2 separate regions of the Homo sapiens genome follow, and region 1 is linked to region 2. Evidence: fine-mapped QTL for protein levels in blood plasma. A gene starts in region 2. The other region holds a variant in brackets. All regions are shown on one strand. Distances are from middle to middle.

Evidence for each region. PIP is the posterior inclusion probability: the model's chance that the variant is causal. The UK Biobank Pharma Proteomics Project read protein levels with antibody pairs (Olink). The fine-mapping took linkage between variants from a reference panel, not from the people measured, so its PIPs are less certain.
Region 1: its variant is fine-mapped to the plasma level of the GPC1 protein (UK Biobank, PIP above 0.99). The variant lies in the coding sequence of GPC1. If it changes the protein, the assay may bind it differently, which can mimic a change of level.

The regions. Positions count from the first base shown.
Region 1 is chr2:240,464,846-240,467,732 of GRCh38, forward strand. GPC1 (glypican 1) reads left to right here. Exons shown (of 9, transcript NM_002081.3): 6 at 11-130; 7 at 232-365; 8 at 628-803; 9 at 1,213-2,887. The coding sequence ends at 1,445. Among named protein-coding and RNA genes, the nearest start is that of GPC1-AS1, 9.6 kb to the left of the region's middle. The variant A/G (reference allele first, on the strand shown) is at 1,266.
Region 2 is chr2:240,434,441-240,437,327 of GRCh38, forward strand. GPC1 (glypican 1) reads left to right here and starts at 1,223. Exons shown (of 9, transcript NM_002081.3): 1 at 1,223-1,644. The coding sequence starts at 1,479. RefSeq lists enhancers at 286-862, 2,596-2,887 and silencers at 692-1,351, 1,412-1,471.

The DNA of each region.
Region 1 (2,887 bases), 30 kb after region 2:
GTCTCTCCAGGTCATCCAGGGCTGCGGGAACCCCAAGGTCAACCCCCAGGGCCCCGGGCCTGAGGAGAAGCGGCGCCGGGGCAAGCTGGCCCCGCGGGAGAGGCCACCTTCAGGCACGCTGGAGAAGCTGGTGAGTGGCCCCTGCGTGTCCACTGGACCAGGCATGAGGGAGGCAGACAGGCAGAGGCGGGCGGGCCCTGGCAGCCCAGTGGCCTGACTGCTGCCCCACAGGTCTCCGAAGCCAAGGCCCAGCTCCGCGACGTCCAGGACTTCTGGATCAGCCTCCCAGGGACACTGTGCAGTGAGAAGATGGCCCTGAGCACTGCCAGTGATGACCGCTGCTGGAACGGGATGGCCAGAGGCCGGTAGGTGCCCACCTGGCTGGCACAGCCCTCCCTCCCATGCCGCCTCCATTGGGCTGTGCCTGGGCCAGGTGCTGTCTGCACGGGGCCACGTCCCTTGCTGGAGGGCTTGAGCCCCACTTCTCTGCGGCCTGTGTGGGCTCTGCTCGGTCCCTGGAAGCTGCTGGGCATCTCAGGCTCAGAGCGTGGGAGAGTGTCCTGCTCAGGTGATGGCCCTTTGCAGGGGCTGGAGCAGTGACCTGGGCTCTGCCTGCCTTTCCCCCAGGTACCTCCCCGAGGTCATGGGTGACGGCCTGGCCAACCAGATCAACAACCCCGAGGTGGAGGTGGACATCACCAAGCCGGACATGACCATCCGGCAGCAGATCATGCAGCTGAAGATCATGACCAACCGGCTGCGCAGCGCCTACAACGGCAACGACGTGGACTTCCAGGACGCCAGTGAGGGCAGGGCCTGGCCGGGCGGCCAAGGGGCCAGGGTTGGTGGGGGTGCCACAGGGGTGTGACTGCCCTCCGGGTTCCCCCACCCGAGGGGCCCTCTGCTCCGGCATCACCACAGTGAGTCTGAGGACGCTGTGCTGCCCAGGCACGATCACCGAGCCCTGCACCTCTGCGGCGCCCTGGAGGCCTGGCCGGGATGTCTGTTGGCTTTGGCTCCAGGGACCAAGGGAGGCAGCCCCAGGGAGTGAGAGTCTCCCAGCCTCAGGGGTCAGCGGGGATCAGGTGCTGCTGGTCCTGGGATTCCACACCGAAAGGATGTTGGGGTCACCTGGCACGGGCCCTTACAGGGTGGTGCTGCACTGGGGTCTCCTGTGGGGACCTGCCTGCCGGAGCCTCCTCTCCTTCCCAGGTGACGACGGCAGCGGCTCGGGCAGCGGTGATGGCTGTCTGGATGACCTCTGC[A/G]GCCGGAAGGTCAGCAGGAAGAGCTCCAGCTCCCGGACGCCCTTGACCCATGCCCTCCCAGGCCTGTCAGAGCAGGAAGGACAGAAGACCTCGGCTGCCAGCTGCCCCCAGCCCCCGACCTTCCTCCTGCCCCTCCTCCTCTTCCTGGCCCTTACAGTAGCCAGGCCCCGGTGGCGGTAACTGCCCCAAGGCCCCAGGGACAGAGGCCAAGGACTGACTTTGCCAAAAATACAACACAGACGATATTTAATTCACCTCAGCCTGGAGAGGCCTGGGGTGGGACAGGGAGGGCCGGCGGCTCTGAGCAGGGGCAGGCGCAGAGGTCCCAGCCCCAGGCCTGGCCTCGCCTGCCTTTCTGCCTTTTAATTTTGTATGAGGTCCTCAGGTCAGCTGGGAGCCAGTGTGCCCAAAAGCCATGTATTTCAGGGACCTCAGGGGCACCTCCGGCTGCCTAGCCCTCCCCCCAGCTCCCTGCACCGCCGCAGAAGCAGCCCCTCGAGGCCTACAGAGGAGGCCTCAAAGCAACCCGCTGGAGCCCACAGCGAGCCTGTGCCTTCCTCCCCGCCTCCTCCCACTGGGACTCCCAGCAGAGCCCACCAGCCAGCCCTGGCCCACCCCCCAGCCTCCAGAGAAGCCCCGCACGGGCTGTCTGGGTGTCCGCCATCCAGGGTCTGGCAGAGCCTCTGAGATGATGCATGATGCCCTCCCCTCAGCGCAGGCTGCAGAGCCCGGCCCCACCTCCCTGCGCCCTTGAGGGGCCCCAGCGTCTGCAGGGTGACGCCTGAGACAGCACCACTGCTGAGGAGTCTGAGGACTGTCCTCCCACAGACCTGCAGTGAGGGGCCCTCCATGCGCAGATGAGGGGCCACTGACCCACCTGCGCTTCTGCTGGAGGAGGGGAAGCTGGGCCCAAAGGCCCAGGGAGGCAGCGTGGGCTCTGCCAATGTGGGCTGCCCCTCGCACACAGGGCTCACAGGGCAGGCCTTGCTGGGGTCCAGGGCTGTTGGAGGACCCCGAGGGCTGAGGAGCAGCCAGGACCCGCCTGCTCCCATCCTCACCCAGATCAGGAACCAGGGCCTCCCTGTTCACGGTGACACAGGTCAGGGCTCAGAGTGACCCTCAGCTGTCACCTGCTCACAGGGATGCTGGTGGCTGGTGAGACCCCGCACTGCAGACGGGAATGCCTAGGTCCCTTCCCGACCCAGCCAGCTGCAGGGCACGGGGACCTGGATAGTTAAGGGCTTTTCCAAACATGCATCCATTTACTGACACTTCCTGTCCTTGTTCATGGAGAGCTGTTCGCTCCTCCCAGATGGCTTCGGAGGGCCGCAGGGCCCACCTTGGACCCTGGTGACCTCCTGTCACTCACTGAGGCCATCAGGGCCCTGCCCCAGGCCTGGACGGGCCCTCCTTCCCTCCTGTGCCCCAGCTGCCAGGCGGCCCTGGGGAGGGGTGGTGTGGTGTTGGGAAGGGGTCCTGCAGGGGGAGGAGGACTTGGAGGGTCTGGGGGCAGCTGTCCTGAACCGACTGACCCTGAGGAGGCCGCTTAGTGCTGCTTTGCTTTTCATCACCGTCCCGCACAGTGGACGGAGGTCCCCGGTTGCTGGTCAGGTCCCCATGGC
Region 2 (2,887 bases):
AGGACACCCTTGCTGTACATGGGGGTCATCTTGAGGTTCTCTGCCAAGGATACTGACCTCTATGCCTGCCCCCAATTCTGCAGCTCAGGCACCTGGCTTCACCGCCAGGCCTTACCATGTGGAGAACAGGGGGCCGGGGTGGGGGGTCTGGGAGCCAAGGAAGGAGTGAAGCCCTCCAGACACCAACATCGCAGTCCTCGCCCCCTCCCTACAGACCCCATCCAGCCCAACTCCCCATGTGCAGCTAAAGCCACGCGCCCTCCTACCATACAAGGTGCAGGCAGCCCTCCCGCCTTCTTCAAAGAGGCATCTGCTCCGGCTCACTCCACCCTCCTCCCCCAGTGGCCTAACTAGTCGCCGGGTTCCAACCCTATCCCTTCTCCAGAGGTCATCTGGCCCCACCCAGCAGCCCAAACCAGTAGACCGGCCCTGCCCCATCACTTTGGTTTCTCCAGCATCCAAAGAACGTGGAGGGTCACCCCCCCAAAACAGCTGTCAAGGTCCAACAATTAAGCCATCTGTTGCCGCTCCCTGGGACTGGGAGAGGTGAGGTCGAGTTTCTTGGCGAGTTTCCTGCGTGCAGCCCCCACACCACAAAAGCCCCCGGTGCGAGCCGGAGCCCAGCGCGAGACGGCTGGAAGGGCGCGGGGAGGGAGCCGCTGCGGGGTGCAGGCGGGGAGAGGGGCGGCGGCTCGAGGCGCGGCCGGCGGGCGGAGGGTACGGAGGCGCCGGGAGAGCGTTCTCGGGGCGCGCTGCCAGGGTGCAGGAAGCCGGAGCGCGCGGGAGGGAGCGGGGAGCGGGATGCCGATTTCGGCTGGGGGCGGGGAGGCCCCTGATTGGGGCGCGGGAGGCGTGATGTCACGTCCGGCGGGGGAAGCCCTGCCTCGCGCACCCTCCGCCCCCGTCCCCGCCCCCACAGGTGGTGCCACCGCCCTGGGCGCTGGGCGTGGGGGGCCGCCCTCGGGGACCCCGGCCGCGGCCCCGCGCTGCCCGGCTCCGCCGCCTCCCGCCGGGGATCGATAGAGTCGCGCGGCCAGGCGGGCCCTCTGGGTCCCTAAGAGCCAGAGGAGCGCCCAGTGCGCCCCGGCCCGCGCCCCCGCGCCGCGCCCCGCCCCGCCCCGCCCGGTGCTCCCAGTCCCTCCCCCACCCCTGCGCTCCCACCCTGCCCCGCCCCTCTCCTCTCCCGCGGCCGCCTAGGGGCCGGGCCGGCGGCGGGGGAGGCGCCGAGCCGGGACTGCGCTAGCCCGCCGCGCTCTGGGCTGCCCGAGCGAGCGTTCGGACCTCGCACCCCGCGCGCCCCGCGCCGCCGCCGCCGCCGGCTTTTGTTGTCTCCGCCTCCTCGGCCGCCGCCGCCTCTGGACCGCGAGCCGCGCGCGCCGGGACCTTGGCTCTGCCCTTCGCGGGCGGGAACTGCGCAGGACCCGGCCAGGATCCGAGAGAGGCGCGGGCGGGTGGCCGGGGGCGCCGCCGGCCCCGCCATGGAGCTCCGGGCCCGAGGCTGGTGGCTGCTATGTGCGGCCGCAGCGCTGGTCGCCTGCGCCCGCGGGGACCCGGCCAGCAAGAGCCGGAGCTGCGGCGAGGTCCGCCAGATCTACGGAGCCAAGGGCTTCAGCCTGAGCGACGTGCCCCAGGCGGAGATCTCGGGTGAGTGAGGGCGCGGCGCCGGGAACCCGGGCCTGGCCGGGCTTTGGGCTCCGGACCCTGGTCTTCCCGACGCGGCTACTCGCCCCCGGCGCGGGATCCTGCCGCCTGCGCCCCGCCGCCCGGGCCCCGAATGGCTCCCTGCGCTGCGGCTCCTCTGCAACCCCACGGCCCTCGCCTCCAAGCCCCGCGCCGCACTCCCTCGCCAGGGTCTCCTCCGCCCCGCTCGGTCGTCCTCCGCCCCTCCCCGCCCCCCGCACGCCGGCTTCTTCCCTGCGGAGCTGATCTCGCCGGGCTGCGGGCTCGGGGCGCTCCTCCCGGGCCACGGCTGGAGCTGGGCGTCTTCTGCCCGCCGCTCGGCCCAGCGCGCCTGCAGGCCGGGAGTCCCAGCCCCGGGGCCGGCTGTCGGGGCGCTGTGGGGCTCGGCGTGGCCGGGCTTTCGGGGCGCCGCTGACGGTGGCCGCGGACCCCTTCTGCTCTGTACAGACCTCTCTGGGAGGCGTCTCCGGTCCTGCCCGGGGATTCTCGTAGGGTCTCCAGCAAAGGCAGCCTAGGTGGGTTTTATAAGCTGACCCCCTCGGGGGGTAGTGCGGAGGGGTGGGGAGGGAGCTGGGCACTTATCCGCGGGCGGAACGCCGCCGCCTCGTAGAGATTCCTGTCGAAGAACTTGTACGCGCCGGCCCCCGCCTGGCGCTTGGGCAGCCTCGTGCCGCGAGTCCAGCTGCAGGTGGTCGGCGCGTTGGATCCCGCCCAGGGGCCGTGTCATTTCTTTGTAAGAACAGCGGCCCTCTTGGCGCCCCCTAAGCCCTGCAGCCGCCTGCGGCTCTGCCTCTTCCCTCCCTGTGGTCCCGGAGGAGCTTTGGGGACAGAAGTGTACGGGTGGGTGGAACGGTGGGCTCCGTGTGCTAAGGAACTCTTGGAACCCAAGCTTCACCTTTCCACGTGTGGGAACCAACCTCGGTCTGTACCGCGTGCCAGGGACCCAGTGGGCAAGAACAAAACAGACTAGGTTCCTGCTCTGGGGGGCTCCTCTGAAACCAGGGGAGTGGGAGTGCGGGTGGAGGGCTACTCAGATGGGGACTCAGCGCAGAAATGCCCATGGTCCTGGGGATTCTGAGCAAGAAGGATCCGTGCATCTGGGTGAGGGGGGTCTGTGGCCATGCCTTGCCGCGGGGGGCGGAGTGGTGGGAGGAGGCAGTCGGGCTCTGGACCCCTGCCCCTCCAGGAGGAACAGAACCCACAGACA